Linked DNA regions of Homo sapiens. The protein of the gene in region 3 purifies or fractionates together with the protein of the main gene of each other region. This does not show direct contact. Each region holds a gene or a part of one and is shown on either strand. Other genes may lie near its edges.

The links.
Region 1: the proteins of ZC3HAV1 (region 3) and NSA2 purify together in Homo sapiens (affinity purification with mass spectrometry; 2 studies listed by BioGRID and IntAct, with this or other methods). This does not show direct contact.
Region 2: the proteins of ZC3HAV1 (region 3) and NMNAT1 purify together in Homo sapiens (affinity purification with mass spectrometry; 2 studies listed by BioGRID and IntAct, with this or other methods). This does not show direct contact.
Region 4: the proteins of ZC3HAV1 (region 3) and HP1BP3 purify together in Homo sapiens (affinity purification with mass spectrometry; 2 studies listed by BioGRID and IntAct, with this or other methods). This does not show direct contact.

What each region holds. Positions count from the first base shown.
Region 1 is NC_000005.10:74,773,749-74,777,248, reverse strand, and holds part of NSA2 (ribosome biogenesis protein NSA2 homolog), read right to left. Parts: intron 3,382-3,500; coding exon 3,189-3,381; intron 646-3,188; coding exon 578-645; 3' UTR 1-577. UniProt on the Homo sapiens protein: Involved in the biogenesis of the 60S ribosomal subunit. May play a part in the quality control of pre-60S particles.
Region 2 is NC_000001.11:9,977,975-9,981,474, forward strand, and holds part of NMNAT1 (nicotinamide/nicotinic acid mononucleotide adenylyltransferase 1), read left to right. Parts: intron 1-3,056; coding exon 3,057-3,196; intron 3,197-3,281; coding exon of another isoform or gene 3,282-3,325; exon of another isoform or gene 3,326-3,500.
Region 3 is NC_000007.14:139,080,946-139,086,534, forward strand, and holds part of ZC3HAV1 (zinc finger CCCH-type antiviral protein 1), read right to left. Parts: intron 3,088-5,589; coding exon 2,835-3,087; intron 1-2,834.
Region 4 is NC_000001.11:20,773,808-20,777,307, forward strand, and holds part of HP1BP3 (heterochromatin protein 1-binding protein 3), read right to left. Parts: intron 2,944-3,500; coding exon 2,790-2,943; intron 1-2,789. UniProt on the Homo sapiens protein: Component of heterochromatin that maintains heterochromatin integrity during G1/S progression and regulates the duration of G1 phase to critically influence cell proliferative capacity.

The DNA.
Region 1 (3,500 bases), on a different chromosome or scaffold from region 3:
TATTATTATACATGGTAAATGAGATGAAAAAAATGTTTAGAATGTGAATTCACTAGACCTTTGCTGTACTGGATTTCACAGGTGAAAAGATTTCTCTAAGATTTCTGAACTTTTAGTGTCTTCTCACATACTTCTAGTGTAAACAAACACTATAAACTTAACATCTGTATTAATGCTACCTACCTTTTTTAGGATTAATGATTAACGAGATTTTGAAGATACTTCAGTTAAATTCTCAGACACATAATTGTGTATTAACCTTTTTGAAAGGCATTTTCAATGAACACTGGTGGTTTTTTCAGGAAATTGCTGAATACCCACTCACAAATGCAGATATTGATGAAGTAGGATATTTGTATATTTGCTTTTTTTCAATCATTCAGTTTTATGAACATGGGGTCAAAGCGTATTTCAAAATAAAGACCATTTATAAAACTGGACCACTTTAATGTTTACAATTTAATAAATCTCTTCATTGCAGACATGTATGGCTGTTTGGTAGTATTCAGAAACATCACAGTAATGGCAGTTTCTTCAATTGGTGTGTAGTCCTCAATAATTATATATGAAATTGCTGTCAAACCAGTAAGACTGCATTTATACATCCATCATTTTCAGGATTGTTGGTAACCTGGGCATATTTTCCTAAGGAAAACAAAACCAAAAAAGGGAAAAGGGAGGGTTGTTAGCTAATAAAAATTAATTTTAAAGAATATAACTTTTGCCTTTTTTTTCTTTTTGTCTTAATACAGGGTTTCACTCTTATTCCCCAGGCTGCAGTGTGGTGGCGTGATCTGGCTCACTGCAACCTCTGCCTCCTGGGCTCAAGCGATTCTCCTCACTCAGTCTTCCGGGTAGCTGGGACCACAGGCACACGCCACTGCCTGGCTAATTTTTTTGTTTTTGTATTTTGTAGAGATGTGGTTTTGCCATGTTGCCCAGGCTGGGCTCGAACTCCTGAGCTCAAATGATCCGCCTGCCTTGGCCTCCCAAAGTGCTGTGATTATAGGTGTGAGCCACTGCGCCCAGCCATGCCTAAAATATTTCTAATTACCACTTTCAATAAATAAGAAATGAACCATAAAGGATAAATGAGATTTTACAAAATTCAATCATTTAAGGACAAATTTGAGTTCTGAATACAATTTTCATACAAATAGTGTTTTTGCAAATAATGGCCAGCTCCATGTTATTAGTACATTGCATTAACAGGCTTTTGTGGATTGACCTGAGCATTGTCACTTTTTCACATAATTCTTCCTGGAAAATGTATCAAGTTTCAAATGAGTTTCAAGTCAAGGTAACAACATATTTTAAAACTGAGGTCAGCTGACATGAAGTATAAACCAATGACTGAAGAAGTTGTAGCGTGTATTCTTCCCTTTCAAAGAAATTGGATCTGGGTACTAAAGGTAGAAAACTAAGCAAATGAGGGCGTTTAAAATTACTGCATGACACATTTCTGTTTTAATTATTACTGATCTAGTGTGATTATATGTTGTATGCCTCCCTCGGCTCATGGTTAATTTATTCTATTTTTTTTTTACAATTTTTTTTAGTTATAACTTTGCATCTGCTTCCCTTGTAATAAAGAATTTTTATTAAAAAAGATCAAAATATTTTTATTTTACTTATTTTTGAGATGGAGGCTTGCTCTGTCTCCCAGGCCGGAGTGCAGTGGCATGATCTCAGCTCACTGCAAGCTCCAGGTTCATGTGATTCTCCTGCCTCAGCCTCCCGAGTAGCTGGAATTACAGGCACCCACAACCACACCTGGCTAATTGTTTTGTATTTTTAGTAGAGACGGCGTTTTGTCATGTTGGCCAGGCTGGTCTCCAACTCCAGTCTCAAGTGAACCGCCTGCCTCGGCCTCCCCAAGTGCTGGGATTATAGGTGTCAGCCACTGCGCCCAGATAGCGAGGGGGCTTTTTAAAGCCTGGAAGCTTCTACATGATTTCTGAGACCTGTTAATGGGAATTAACAGAACGAACTAAACTGTGTTAAATCACTTTCAATTATTATTATTACTTTTTGAGACAGAGTCTCGCTCTGTCATCCAGGCTGGAGTGCAATGGCACGATCTCAGCTCACTGCAAGCTCCACCTCCCAGGTTCAAGCGATTCTCCTGCCTCAGCCACCGGAGCAGCTGGGATTACAGGTGTGGGCCACAACACCTGGCTAATTTGTGTATTTTTAGTAGAGATGGGGTTTCACCATGTTGGCCAGGCTGGTCTTGAACTCCTGACTGCAGATGATCTGTCCGCCTCAGCCTCCCAAAGTGCTGGGATTACAGGCTGAGCCACCGCTCCTGGCAGTTTCAATGATCAGTTTACCTACGTGGGACAGATAGTTCTATTTCTTTAAATGTAATAGGTATTTTCTCTTAATGTTAGCATGTAAATATAAGAAGTATTTACATAATATAAAGTTGTGGCAAAAGAAATTTTTTCTTACGGAAGACATCTTTAGTCATTGGCTAATACTTCATGTAAGCTGACCTCACTTTTAAAATATGTTTGATATATGCCTCCCTTCCTCTGCTCATGGTTAATTTATTCTATTTTCTTATAATATTTCTTAGTTATAACTTTGCATCTGCTTCCCTTATAATAATTTTTATTAAAAAGGTTAAAAAAATTTTTTTTGAGATGGAGATTTGCTCTGTCTCCCAGTCTGGAGTGCAGTGGCACAATCTCAGCTCACTGCAAGCTCCGCCTCCTGAGTTCAAGTGATTCTCCTGCCTCAGCCTCCCAAGTGGCTGGGATTAGAGGTGCTCGCCACCACACCCGGCTGATTTTTTTGTATTTTTAGTAGAGGTGGGGTTTTGCCATGTTGGCCAGGCTGGTCTCAAACTCCTGACTTCAGGTGATCCACCCGCCTCAGCCTCCCAAAGTGCTGGGATTTACATGCGTGAGCTGCTGTGCCTGGCTAAAAAGGATAAAAATAAATCTAGCAGAATGTATTACACCTTATGTAACTAAAACCAGTAAGCTAAATTTTAAAACAATTGTATTTATAACAACTTTTTCTATAAAGTATTTTTTACTAAATATTTACATCTGATTTACAGTGTTTTAGCTCTACTGCATTAAAAAAATTTGCTGTATATTTTATTAATACATCAACTTGAATAGTATTTCTATTAGTACTGCAGAACACAGCAGCCCTGTATTCAAAAATTCACTTACCCCAAATAACTTTGCCTCCTTGTGTCACAAGGCCCAATTCGCTCACATTTACTTCAATGACAGTACCTTTGGTAATAACACCCAAAGTTGTATACAGTGGGGATGAGGGATTCTTCTTTACACCAAGTATTGGTAGGCAAAAGGTGGCTTTCAGTTCAGGATGTGTTACATGGGCTTTCTTGAAACGCAAGCCCTAGTAAGTCAAACACAACATAAGAATGTTTACGTCCAAAATGTTAACAGTGATGAGTAGTGGTCGTTTTCGCTTATCTTTTTCAACCATCTCCAAAAAACTATGGTTGAATAATGTCA
Region 2 (3,500 bases), on a different chromosome or scaffold from region 3:
AGTCTCCTGAAGTTGGTGACGGACAGTGGACTCCAGCGTCTAGCCACCACACCCACACTAGAAAGGATTACTGGCTATAAATAGCGCAATAATAGGATCAGGCCGGGCATGGTGGCTCACACCTGTAATCCCAGCACTTTGGGAGGCCGAGGTGGGTGGATCACCTGAGGTCAGGAGATCGAGACCACCCTGGCCAACATGGCAAACCCCGTCTCTACTAAAAATACAAAAATTAGCCAGGCGTGGTGGCACATGCCTATAGTCCCAGCTACTTGGGAGGCTGAGGTGGGAGAATCCCTTGAACCCGGGAGGTGGAGGTTGCAGTGAGCCGAGATTGCGCCACTGCACTCCAGCCTGGGTGACAGAGTGAGACTCCGTCTCAAAAAAAAAGATTACTTGTCAGGCTCCACAGTCCCAGGATGATGGCCTCTGTCCTCCTTCTGCCTTCCAAATCTCTCAGGAGAGAATCTCATTAGCAGAAATCGCAGTCAAGTCCACAGCCTGCTGCAAGGACCTCTGGGAAGTGTGTTGGGCAGGATTGGGCACTGAGTCAGTAGGAAGTATCTCACACAGTGATCTCTCAAGAGGACTTCCTTTTCAGACTTGGCAGGGAGAAGAGTCTCCACTGCTTGATGGCAAAAAATTCTCCCATGAGGGAGCAAGTTCCTGGGCCACAGCCCTACCCGACCCTCTGGCTTTATAGTAACCTTATTGCCCATTAAATAGTCAACTCAGCTGCTCAGAAGGGTTGGGATGTAGGGGAATAAAGGCCCACAGTTGGATCCCACAAGTGTAGTTGATGTTATTTGGGTAACATTGCACAGTTTGAAAACAGTGGGCACCCTGCTGCCAGCCCAGAATAGAGCTATACACAAATCCTGCTTAGGGCCCCTTCCTTTAAGGCCTCAGGCCCTTGCCGCTCTAGGACCTTCTCCTTGGCGTTCTGGTTCTTTGTCACAAGATTAAGCCACACTCTTCCATGGTCAAGAGTGTGGGCTCTGGACCAGACTGCTGGGGTTCAAGTCCTGGCTCTGCTATTAATACTTTTAAGTTAAATGACCTTAGGCAAATTAGTCAGTGTCCTCTGTCAATGGGGTAATAAACAATTCTGATATGAGAGATGAGCAGCACATTAAAACCAGAAGTATTTTCAGTGAAACTAGCTGCAAGGTGGCAGTAATATAGTCGCTTTGTAATAACCAAAATGTTCAGGCTGATCATGGTGGCTCACATCTATAGTCCCAGCACTTTGGGAGTCTGAGGCAGGAGGATTGCTTGAGGCCAGGAGTTCAAGACCAGTGTGGGCAACATAGTGAGACCTCATCTCTCCAAAAAACTAAAGTTAGCTGAACATGGTGGCACGTGCCTGTAGTCGCAGCTATCTGGGAGGCTGAGGCGGTAGGATCACTTGAGCCCAGGAGTTTTGGTTGCAGCGAGCTATGATTGTGCCACTGTGCTCCATCCTGGGCAATAGAGTGAGCCTGTGTCTCTGAAAAACAAACCAAAAAAACCCCAAAACATTCACTCAATCAAATTGTTATTGAGGCTGGGCGCAGTGGCTCACGCCTGTAATCCCAGCACTTTGGGAGGCCTAGGCGGGCAGATCACAAGGTCAGGAGATCGAGACCATCCTGGCTAACATGGTGAAACCCTGTCTCTACTAAAAATACAGAAAAAATTAGCCGGGCGTGGTGGTGGGCGCCTGTAGTCCCAGCTACTCGGGAGGCTGAAGCAGGAGAATGGCGTGAACCTAGGAGACGGAGGTTGCAGTGAGCTGAGATCGTGCCACTGCACTCCAGCCTGGGCGACAGAGTGAGACTCCATCTCAAAAAAAAAAAAAAAAATTGTTATTGAATGCCTCCTCATAGACTCTGCTAGGAGCTGGAGTAGCAACTGTAAGCCTCCTTTCTCCTTCCCTTACGGAGATAATAATATTTATGATATAGGATGTTGAGAAGATTTTTTTTTTCTTTTGAGGCGGAGTTTTGCTCTTGTTGCCCAGGCTGGAGTGCAATAGCGCAATCATGGCTCACTGCAACCTCCACCTCCTGGGTTCAAGCGATTCTCCTGCCTCAGCCTCCCGAGTAGCTGGGATTATAGGCATGTGCCACCACACCCGGCTAATTTTCTATTTTTAGCAGAGACAGGGTTTCTCCATGTTGGTCAGGCTGTGTCTCGAACTCCTGACCTCAGGTGATCCACCCGCCTTGGCCTCCCAAAGTGCTGGGATTACAGGTGTGAGCCACCACGCCCAGTCGAGAAGATTTTTAATTTTTTTTAGTCTTCCACAACAGTCATCTTATGTTGAGAAGACTTAATCAGATAATCCATGTAAAGGATTCAGTGTAATGTGTGGCATATGATAAATAATGTTGGCCAGGCACCTATAATCCCAGCACTTTGGGAGGCTGAGGCGGGCAGATCGCTTGAGGTCAGAAGTTCAAGACCAGCCTGGCCAACATGATGAAACCCCGTCACTACTAAAAATACAAAAAAAAATTGGCTGAGCGTGGTGGTGCGCCCCTGTAATCCCAGCTGCTCGGGAGGCTGAGGCAAGAGAATTGTTTGAACCCAGGAGCCAGAGGTTACAGTGAGCTGAGATCACACACTGCACTCAGCCTGGGCGTCAGAGCAAGACACCATCTCAAAATAATAAATAAATAAATAATGTTAATGATATTCTTTTTTTTTTCTTTTTTTGAGATGGAGTCTCACTCTGTCGCCCAGGTTGGAGTGCAGTGGTGCGGTCTTGGCTCACTGCAACCTCTGCCTCCCAGGTTCAAGTGATTCTCCTGCCTCAGCCTCCCGAGTAGCTGGGATTACAGGTGCCCGCCACCACACCCGGCTAATTTTTTGTATTTTTAGTAGAGACGGGGTTTCACCGTGTTAGCCAGGATGGTCTCGATCTTCTGACCTCGTGATCCGCCCACCTCGGCCTCCCAAAGTGCTGGGATTACAGGTGTGAGCCACTGTGCCCAGCTATAAATAATGTTAATGATATATTCTAATGGAGCATGTGAGAAAGAGAAATATTCTATTGTTTTGTTGTTTTATAGACACCATCAAGAGAAATTGGAGGCTAGTGACTGTGATCACCAGCAGAACTCACCTACTCTAGAAAGGCCTGGAAGGAAGAGGAAGTGGACTGAAACACAAGATTCTAGTCAAAAGAAATCCCTAGAGCCAAAAACAAAAGGTTTGTATGTTTTAGCAGGACCCACGGACTAGAGTTGATAAGATTCTGTAGCTGAGCAAACCCCTGTGTATTTTTTTTTTTTTAGATGGAGTCTCGCTCTATCACCCAGGCTGGAGTGCAGTGGCATGATCTCAGCTCACTGCAAGCTCTGCCTCCTGGGTTCATGCCATTCTCCTGCCTCAGCCTCCTGAGCAGCTGGGACTACAGGTGCCTGCCACCACGCCTGTCTAATTTGTTTGTATTTTTAGTAGAGACGGGGTTGCACCATGTTAGCCAGGATGGTCTTGATCTCCTGACCTCATGA
Region 3 (5,589 bases):
TAAGCTGGAAATTTTTCCAGTTTTCTTCATCTCACTCCATAAGGCCAAAGTATATCAGAAGTCAACATCGACAAAGCAGTGTGGCCTGCAGGGAATTGGCCTTCCTCTAGAAACTTGATAGGTCACACCCTTCTGGAAGCAGGGAGGAAGGAAGGAGTTAGGGTGTGTTTGTGAGCGCGTGTGGAGTGTGTGTGGCGTGCATGCACGTGATGTTTATGTGGGGTGTGTTTGTGTGCCGGGGGTACATGTGGAAGATGTGCATGTCTGTGTTTGAGGCACATGTGCACGTGTGGTGTGTGAATGTGAGGTGTGCATGTGTGCTCGTGTGTGTGTGTGAATTGTGCTTTTTTGTGTGGGGAAGGGGTAGAAGAGACATTTTTTTTCTCTTCCAAACCCAGGGGGCAGTAGTTATGTAGTAAAAGCAAACACCCTCCTCCTGTCAAGAAAAGGCTTAACTCAGGAGATTAACTGGAAGTGAAAATATATACAGATCTTTCTCATTCACAATAAGTTTACATTGAGAAGCTACCACCAAAACCCATCCCTCCAGACATTCCTCTGTTCAGAGGGAACTGTAGTGAGAGAGAAAAAGCATTAGATATGGGATCAGAACATGCACTCTGCTACTTTCTAGTGATGTGAGGCCTTGAAAATGTTACCTTTTATTTCTTCATTACATTATCCTTCATTCTTCTAAAAATGAGCTGAGGCTGCTTGCAATAAACATTGCTTACTATTTCTGAGCCTCAGTTTCTTTACCCTCTTAAGTAAGGCTAAAAAATGACATATCTACCTTTCTTTGTGGTTTCACTGTGAGGAACAATGATGAAATATTTATTTGGGATGAAAGTCCCTTGTAAATGATAAACCATTTCCCAAATATAAGGAGGTTTAATTGTTCATTAATTTGCACAGAATCCTAGAATCATGTATTCTATCTGCTTCATAAAATTCATCTTTCCTACATCCACTTCATAAAGACATTAAAAATGAATGCCATTATATAATATGAAAATGCTTCAGAAATAGCAGCACTTGGCTGGGCATGGTGGCTTACGCCTGTAATCCCAGCACTTTGGGAGGCTAAGGTGGGTGGATCACTTGAGGTCAGGAGTTCAAGACCAGCCTGGCCAACATGATGAAAACCCGTCTCTACTAAAAATACAAAAATTAGCTGGGAGTGGTGGCAGGCACCTGTAATCCCAGCTACTTGGGAGACTGAAGCAGAAGAATCACTTGAACCCAGGAGGCGGCCGGCCATTGCAGTGAGCCGAGGTCGCACCACTGAACTCCAGCCTGGGTGACAGAGTGAGACTCTGTCTCAAAACAGGAAAGAAAAAAAAAAGTAATAGCACTTCATACTCCTTAGGATGGCTATTATTAAAAAAAAAAATCAGAAAACACAAAATGATAGAGGATGTGAGAAATTTGAACCCATGTGCACTGCTGGCAGAAATGAAAAATGGCACAGCTGCTACAAAAAATGGTATGATCGTTCCTCCAAAAATTAAACATAGAATTACCATATGATCCAGCAATTCTACTTCTGATTATATACCCCCGAGGAACTGAAAACAGGGTCTCAAAGTGGTATCTGTACACCATGTTTACAGCAGCATTATTCACAATAGCCAAACTGGAAATGGCCCAAATATCCATCGACAGATGAATGGATAAAAAATTTATAATTATATACATACAATGAAATATTCATTCTGACATATGCTATAACATGGATGAACCCTGAGGACATCATGCTAAGTGAAATAAGCCAGTCAGAAAAGGATAAATATTGTACGATTCCACTTATATGAAGTACCTAGGGTTGTCAAATTCATACAAACAGAAAGCAGAATGTTAGTTGCCAGGGGCTGGGGAAAGAAGGGAATGGGAGTTATTGTGGCTTTTTTTAGAAATTTTAAAATATTGGTTTTTTTTTAAAGAAATGGCACTGAGGACCATAAATTAAATTATACATAGTTTTGCATCAATAATAAATTTTCTGTATTAATTGTCTTGTGATTATGTAAGAGAATGGCCTTGTTCTGAGGAGATACATGCTGATATATTCAGGTGTGAAATGTCATGATATTTACATATATCAAATGCTTTAAACACCAAAATGTTCTACGTGTGTGTGAGTAGCTGCATGTATACATAGAGAGAAAGAAAGTGCTAAAGCAATTGGGACAAAATGTTAACAGCTGATAAATCTAAACAATTTTATGTTTGTTTCTTTTCCTTAAAAAAAAGCTTTGTTAATTAGTTTTTAGAAAAATGATATACACTTTTTTAAACCTGGGGGGGGGGGCAATAGTGCTAAGCATAAAAATTGAATTGCAAACACTGCATGTATACTACCATTATAATTATGTAAAAATGGTGTATACATATGCATGAAGTTTGGAAGGGAAAATGAAGAGTTTTACACGGCAAGGTAGAGTGATTATGGCAGTTTTTCTTTCCTTGTGATTTCTGCTGATTTGAAAGTTCACACAATTGGCCGGGTGCAGTGGCTCATGCTTGTAATCCCAGCACTTTGAAAGGCTGAGGCAGGGAGATTACCTTAGGTAAGGAGTTCAAGGCCAGCCTGGCCAACATGGCGAAACCCCGTCTCTAATTTATACAAAAATTAGCTGGGTGTGGTGGTGCACACCTGTAATCCCAGCTACTCGGGAGGCTGAGGCAGGAGAATCACTTGAACCTGGGAGGCAGAGGTTGCAGTGAGCTGAGATCACGCCACTGTACTCCAGCTTGGGTGACAGAGAGAGACTCTGTCTCAAAAAAAAAAAAAAAAAAAGAGTTCACACAATTGAAAAAGAAAAGGCCTTTACCTCTGGGCCCTGGGGGATTCTTCTGCATGTGCTTGCTGTTGCAGATGTCCTGGATGTTCTGGACCACGTCGGGGTTCAGCCCGTGCTCCCTCATGATGGCCAGCACCTTTCTGTCCATCAGGTTATGGGACCGGAGGCAGTTGGGAAAACGACAGTTCCCTCGGGTGAAGTGGTCACAGATGTGGAGTCTTGAACACGGTGGCTGCTGGTTACAAATCTGCTGCCGACCCTCTCCCTTATAACTTTTGCATATCTACAGAAGGGAGAAACAACAGCCAGAGTCAAAACACCTTCTTGTATTTGCCAAACATTCATTAAGGCAAGCTCACGTGTGCAAAAATCTCTGAAGCAAGCAGAGATATACCAAAGGGGGAAAAATACATGCATATTCTGCAGTCTTTGATGAGTCACATTCAGTTGGTGATTTACTTGGGGCAGAAGAGGTCCACAGACTAACCAAAAGATACTGATCAATTTGATAACCCTTGGAAGAATCAATGTAAGCTGGTTAGCTACAAACAGGACCCAAAGTGAGCCCTATATCATGAAGGAACCCAGCACAGGAAGGCTCATCTTTGGTTATCAACTCACTTTGCAATGAAAAGGACATGTGGGTCTTACCTGCAACTGTTTGGAAATCCAAAATTTAGACTCTGCTAGGCAGAATGACATTTCTCAAAAGATTGCCTAAAGAAGATAAGTTTTGTATTTCCATCTAAATAGATACATGTACGTGACTAGCTCTGAAGAGATGTAGTCCCTACTGGAAAGAGGGCAGAGAAAATACTGCAGCTGAGGCCACGCCATATGATACAGAACTGGAGGATGCTGGTTTTAAAATCTGAGGCCCTGGAAGCAGCTGTGTGACCTCAAGGGATCCCTTACCTACTCTTAGCCTCCGTTTCCTTTGCTGTAACAGGAGGAAAAGATTTGTTCTGTCTACAAAAACCAAGTTGTTAAGCAGACTAAATAGCAAAATTTGTAAATGCGTTATGCAAAATATAAAGTGTGATGCACGTGTTTGAACCATGAAATGAGGAAACCAATATAATTAGTAAGAAACCTGAATTTCAGACATTTTAATGAGTCACTTCGATAGACTCTGAGCAAACCAGATCAGTATGGTTCACTGTGATCTGTCTAGATGGCAAGCCATGATTCAAACCCCACTAGCAATGATTTTGCCACATGGATAATCGCTAAAACCTGATTCAAATAGATATATGTAACTGCTATCAAGTCTATGATCCAGATTCTAGACTCTAGACCAGCAATTCTCAAAGTGTGGTCCCCGGACCAGCACCATCAGCACTACCTGTAAATTTGTTAGAAATGCAAATCTTCAGGCACTTGCCCATATCTATAGAGTCTGAACCATCAGAGGTGGGGCCCAACAGTCTGTGTTTTAACAAACCTTCTGGATGATTCTGATGTCCGCTAAAGTTTGAGCTGTAGCAAAAAAGCACCATTAGCAACTTCACAAATGATGTTTTGGTAACATTCCTATTCCCACGCCGATATTAAGCAAGAATGCTCCTGCCTTCATTAGACCAGAACAAATGAAAGCATTTCTTCCTTTAAGAAGCACATTTCAATTGTACAAGTTTATATATCAGGCAGTCAGGTTTGCCTGATCTTTTTATGTTCTCACAAGTCAAAGCAAAATGAAAAAGTGTGAATACGTAGTTTTTTAGGGCTGAGTGTGTGGCTTCCCACTGGTTACCTCCAGTATTTTAACATTGTGACTAACACTTGCAGGTGCTTTTAAATGTTAGTTGAATGAATGCAAAGCAATCAATGAAGTGACTGGAAACATTTCACTGTGGTCCCCATCTCACACCCCCTAAACCACAAAGCTGTTTCTCTGCACTGCCTCTTACACTTAACTTCGCCCCTCTCTTCCTCCTCTTTCCTTCTGATAAAATCCAAATCAGCCAGGCACAGTGGTTCAGGCTGGGCATGGTGGCTCACACCTGTAATCCCAGCACTTTGGGAGGCTGAGGCGGGAGGATCACCTGAGGTCAGGAGTTTGAGACCAGCCTGGCCAACATGGTGAAACCCCATCTCTACGAAAAATACAAAAAATTATCCGGGTGTGGTGGTGTATGGCTGTAATCCCAGCTACACGGGAAACTGAGGCAGGAGAATTGCTTGAACCCGAGACGGAGGTTGCAGGACCTGAAATTGCACCACTGCACTCCAGCCTGGGAGACAGAGTGAGACTCCATCTCAAAAAAGAAAAAAAAAAAAATCCAAATTGCCCAAACAACAGCTGCAAATCTGCAGGGATAATTCCTCCATCTTTAGAGAGCCATCCTGGACCAACTCTTCTTGAAATTAGCTGAACTCTGGCTGACTCCTCCTGCCAAAGCCCTATGAAAAAATTCCATCCTACTCCCCTAAGTTAAAACACTCCTTTAGAGCCTTCTCTTGCCCAGCATTCTTGAACAAAAACTTATACCAACAGTACTAACTCATGCTAACTCCAGAAACCAGCTCCTCAGACCTCTAGTTCAGGAAATAATGCAGTCCCCCATTCTGGGATCTTAACTCTGACGAGTGGAAAACAGCAATTAAATTATTAGCTAAAAATAAGCTTCAGGCAAGAACCTCCCCACCCCACCCCACCCTCTAATTGTGGGTACTGAATTCTAACAATGGAAAGGGAGCCTTGGGTGATGCTGACCTCTTGTTTGCACTGTTTGATAAAAGTATGATGACAACATTTTCCTATAGGGACCCTCACAGCACTGTA
Region 4 (3,500 bases), on a different chromosome or scaffold from region 3:
ATTTTTCTCTTAGCTGCAGGAGAAAGGAGTCACATAAATTAGCACTGGTATAAGGGCTCAGTACATAAGACAAATGAGAATTTTAAAATGCACATTAGTTAACAATTACAACAGATGCAATATGGTATAGTGGAAAAAACTCAAGCTCTTAAAGTCAGAAAACCTTTGTTTGTATTTTCACTCAAACATTTACTAGCTAGCTATATGATCTTAGTAAATGATGTGAGTCTTTCTCCTCAGCTATAAAACAGTAATATAGAACCAACTATTTCCCAAGGTGTTGCAAGAATTATAAGAGTATGTTTATCAAAACAATTTTGTGAGATTTAAAGCATTATGTAAATTTTATTCTGAGTATATAACAGTACTCTGTGCACCTAATAGGTGCATTAGAACATTTAACAACAGACGATAGGCTGGGTGCAGTGGCTCATGCCTGTAATCCCAGCAATTTAGGAGGCTGAGGAGGGAGGACAGCTTGAGGCCAGGAGTTCAAGCCCAACCTAGCCAACATAGTGAGACGCCATCTCCATTAAACACACACACACACACACAAACACACCCACACCCACACACGATAGTTGCTATAAATTCCACAGACCTTAGCTATACTTATGAAACTCAGATAAAGAATACCCTGAAGATTATAGCTAGAAGGTATAGTTATTACTAAGTTATTCTTTTATGGTCATGTGCTGTGTAACAATATTTGGTCAACAGACCACATATACAATGGTGGTCCCTTAAGATTATAATGGAACTGAAAACCTCCTATTACCTGGTTAACATGATAGCTGTGGTAATATCACAGCGCAGCACGTTACTCACTTGTTTGTGGTGACATTGGTGTAAACAAACCTACAGTGCTGCCAGTCATACAAAAATATAGCATATTGGCTGGGCGCGGTGACTCATGCCTGTAATCCCAGCACTTTGGGAGGCCAAGGTGGGCGGATCACAAGGTCAAAAGATTGAGACCATCCTGGCCAACATGGTGAAACCCCCGTCTCTCCTGAAAATACAAAAATTAGCTAGGTGTGGAGGTGCACGCCTGTAGTCCCAGCTACTTGGCAGGTTGAGGCAGGAGAATCGCTTGAACCTGGGAGGTGGAGGTTGCAGTGAGCCCAGATCGCGCCACTGCACTCCACACTCCAACCTGGGTGACAGAGTAAGACTCCATCTCAAAAAAAAAAAAAAAGCACATTACAATTATACATAATACCTGATAATAAACAGCTATGCTACTAGTTTATGTGTTTACTATACTATACTTTTTATCATTAGAGTATATGTTTTCTACCTACAAAAAAAAAGTTAACTGTAAAACAGCCTCAAGCAGGTCCTTCAGAAGGTATTCCAAAAGACAGCACTGTTATCATAGGAAATGACAGGTCCATGTGTGTTGCTGCCCCTGAAGGCCTTGAGTGGGACAAGATCTGGAGGTGGAAGACAGTGATATTGATGACCCTGACCTTGTGCAGGCCTAGGTTAAGGTGTGTGTATGTGTCTTAGTTTTGTTTTTTTATAAATATGAGGTCTCACAACGTTGCCCAATCTAGATTCAAATTTCAGGACTCAAGCAATCCCCCCACCTCAGCTTCCTAAGTAGCTAGGGCTACAGCTGTGCACCATTGCGTCCGGCTTGTGTCTTTGTTTTTGGTAAAGTTTTAAAAGTTTTTAAAAATAAAAACTTTTTAGTTTTAAAAGTTGCTAAAAATAAAAACTTTTTAGTTTTAAAAGTTGCACACAGTAGTCCTAGGCCTTTGCATTCACTTACCACTCACTCACTCACCCAAACAACTTCCAATCCTTTAAGGTCCATTCATGGTAGGTGTCCTACACAGGTATACCATTTTTTATCTTTTATATTATATTTTTACTGTACCTTTTCTATGTTTAAATACACAAATACTTACCGTTGTGTTATAACTGCCTACAGTATTTAGTACAGTAACATGCTGTACAGGTTTGTAGCCTAGAAGCAACAGACTATCCCATAAAGCCTAGGTATGTAGTAGGCTGTACCACGTAGGTTTGTGTAAGTACACTTTATGATGTTGGCACGATGATGAAATCGCCTAAAGATGTATCTCTCAGAATGTATACCCATTGTTAAGCAATGCATGACTATAGTTAAAAGCAATTTCTAACTGTTCTGACCAATTATGAAAAGAGTGGAATGAATACTATCAGCTCTCCTGCAAAAAAAAAAAAAAAAAAATTAAAAATTAAAAAGTAACTGCCATCACTTTATATAGATACACATCAATAGCAAATTTTACTTTCAGATTCTCAAAGCCAATTCTTCAACTGAATATTTCATCAAACATATATAGACTTTTAGGTCACACTACCAATGGCTTGATACAAATCAATGCCTTCTAACATAAGCACACAAAAACAACCCACTCCTGGCACAGAAGTAGGAATAAAATAGTGAAATGTCTTCTAGGTCAGATTTTTATAGTTATGTTTCATTTCTTATTGAAGTCTTGCCAATGCTTAAAATATCAGATACTCCCACAATAAATTACAAGCTCAAAAACACATTCCAAAGCCAATGACAAAGACTTTTGGATTATTCAAACCATTGTGTTCTGCTAACTACAGCATATTCTAACAGGTCAAACAACTATATAATAAACCTATTTCAAATGGTAATTCTAAAAATTAAATCCAAATAGCAAATACCTAGCATAAACCAATGTTATAACACTTTAAAACAATCTAATCTAAAGTCCTTTTACACATTCTTCAAATATAAATAGCAAGAAGACATAACTCCTTACTCCTTTTTGGTTTCCTCAGAAGACTTATTTTCTTCCTTCTCTTCATTCTCAGGTTCCCCCTTTGGCTGCTCTGCCTCACTCGAAGTAGCAGGTGGAGTTTCATTCTCTTGTTCTTCTACAGTGGAGACAGATTCCTCTGAACTTATGTCTGGTTCTAAAAAATCAGGTGAGCAGAATTGCATAAGCAGATGTATTCCAATCTGAGTCAATAAAAGGTAAAAGCTTATCTTATTAAACGGACCAGCCAAAGTCTCCAATTAACAAATGAATTCTAAAATGAAAATGAATGACCACTAATGCAGTTTTCTTACATTCTTTATGTCACTCAAGTTTCCTGGTCAGGTGGTTATTTATCTATTATTAGAAAAATAGACCAGGAAATTACATAGAAAGGAAAACTCATTTCATCCCCAATTGTTTAATTATTCTACTTTGCAATATTCATGAGACTCATAATTAAGAAACTAGCCATTTTATAATTCAACAGGCAAATCTCAGAGAATAAGTAATTTAAAAACTCATGTATTCTCCAAGAGGAATGACTGAAGCAAGAGTAGAAATATGAGGGGAACATGGAGGTCTGCTGCTATTTGTGCCTTTCCTTCACAGCATGTCTCTGAGTAGCTACTATAAAACACAGAACCCCAGGCACTGGTTATGCAGGGACTTCAGAGAACTCCAAAAAAAAATAAAAATAAAAAAAATAAAAAA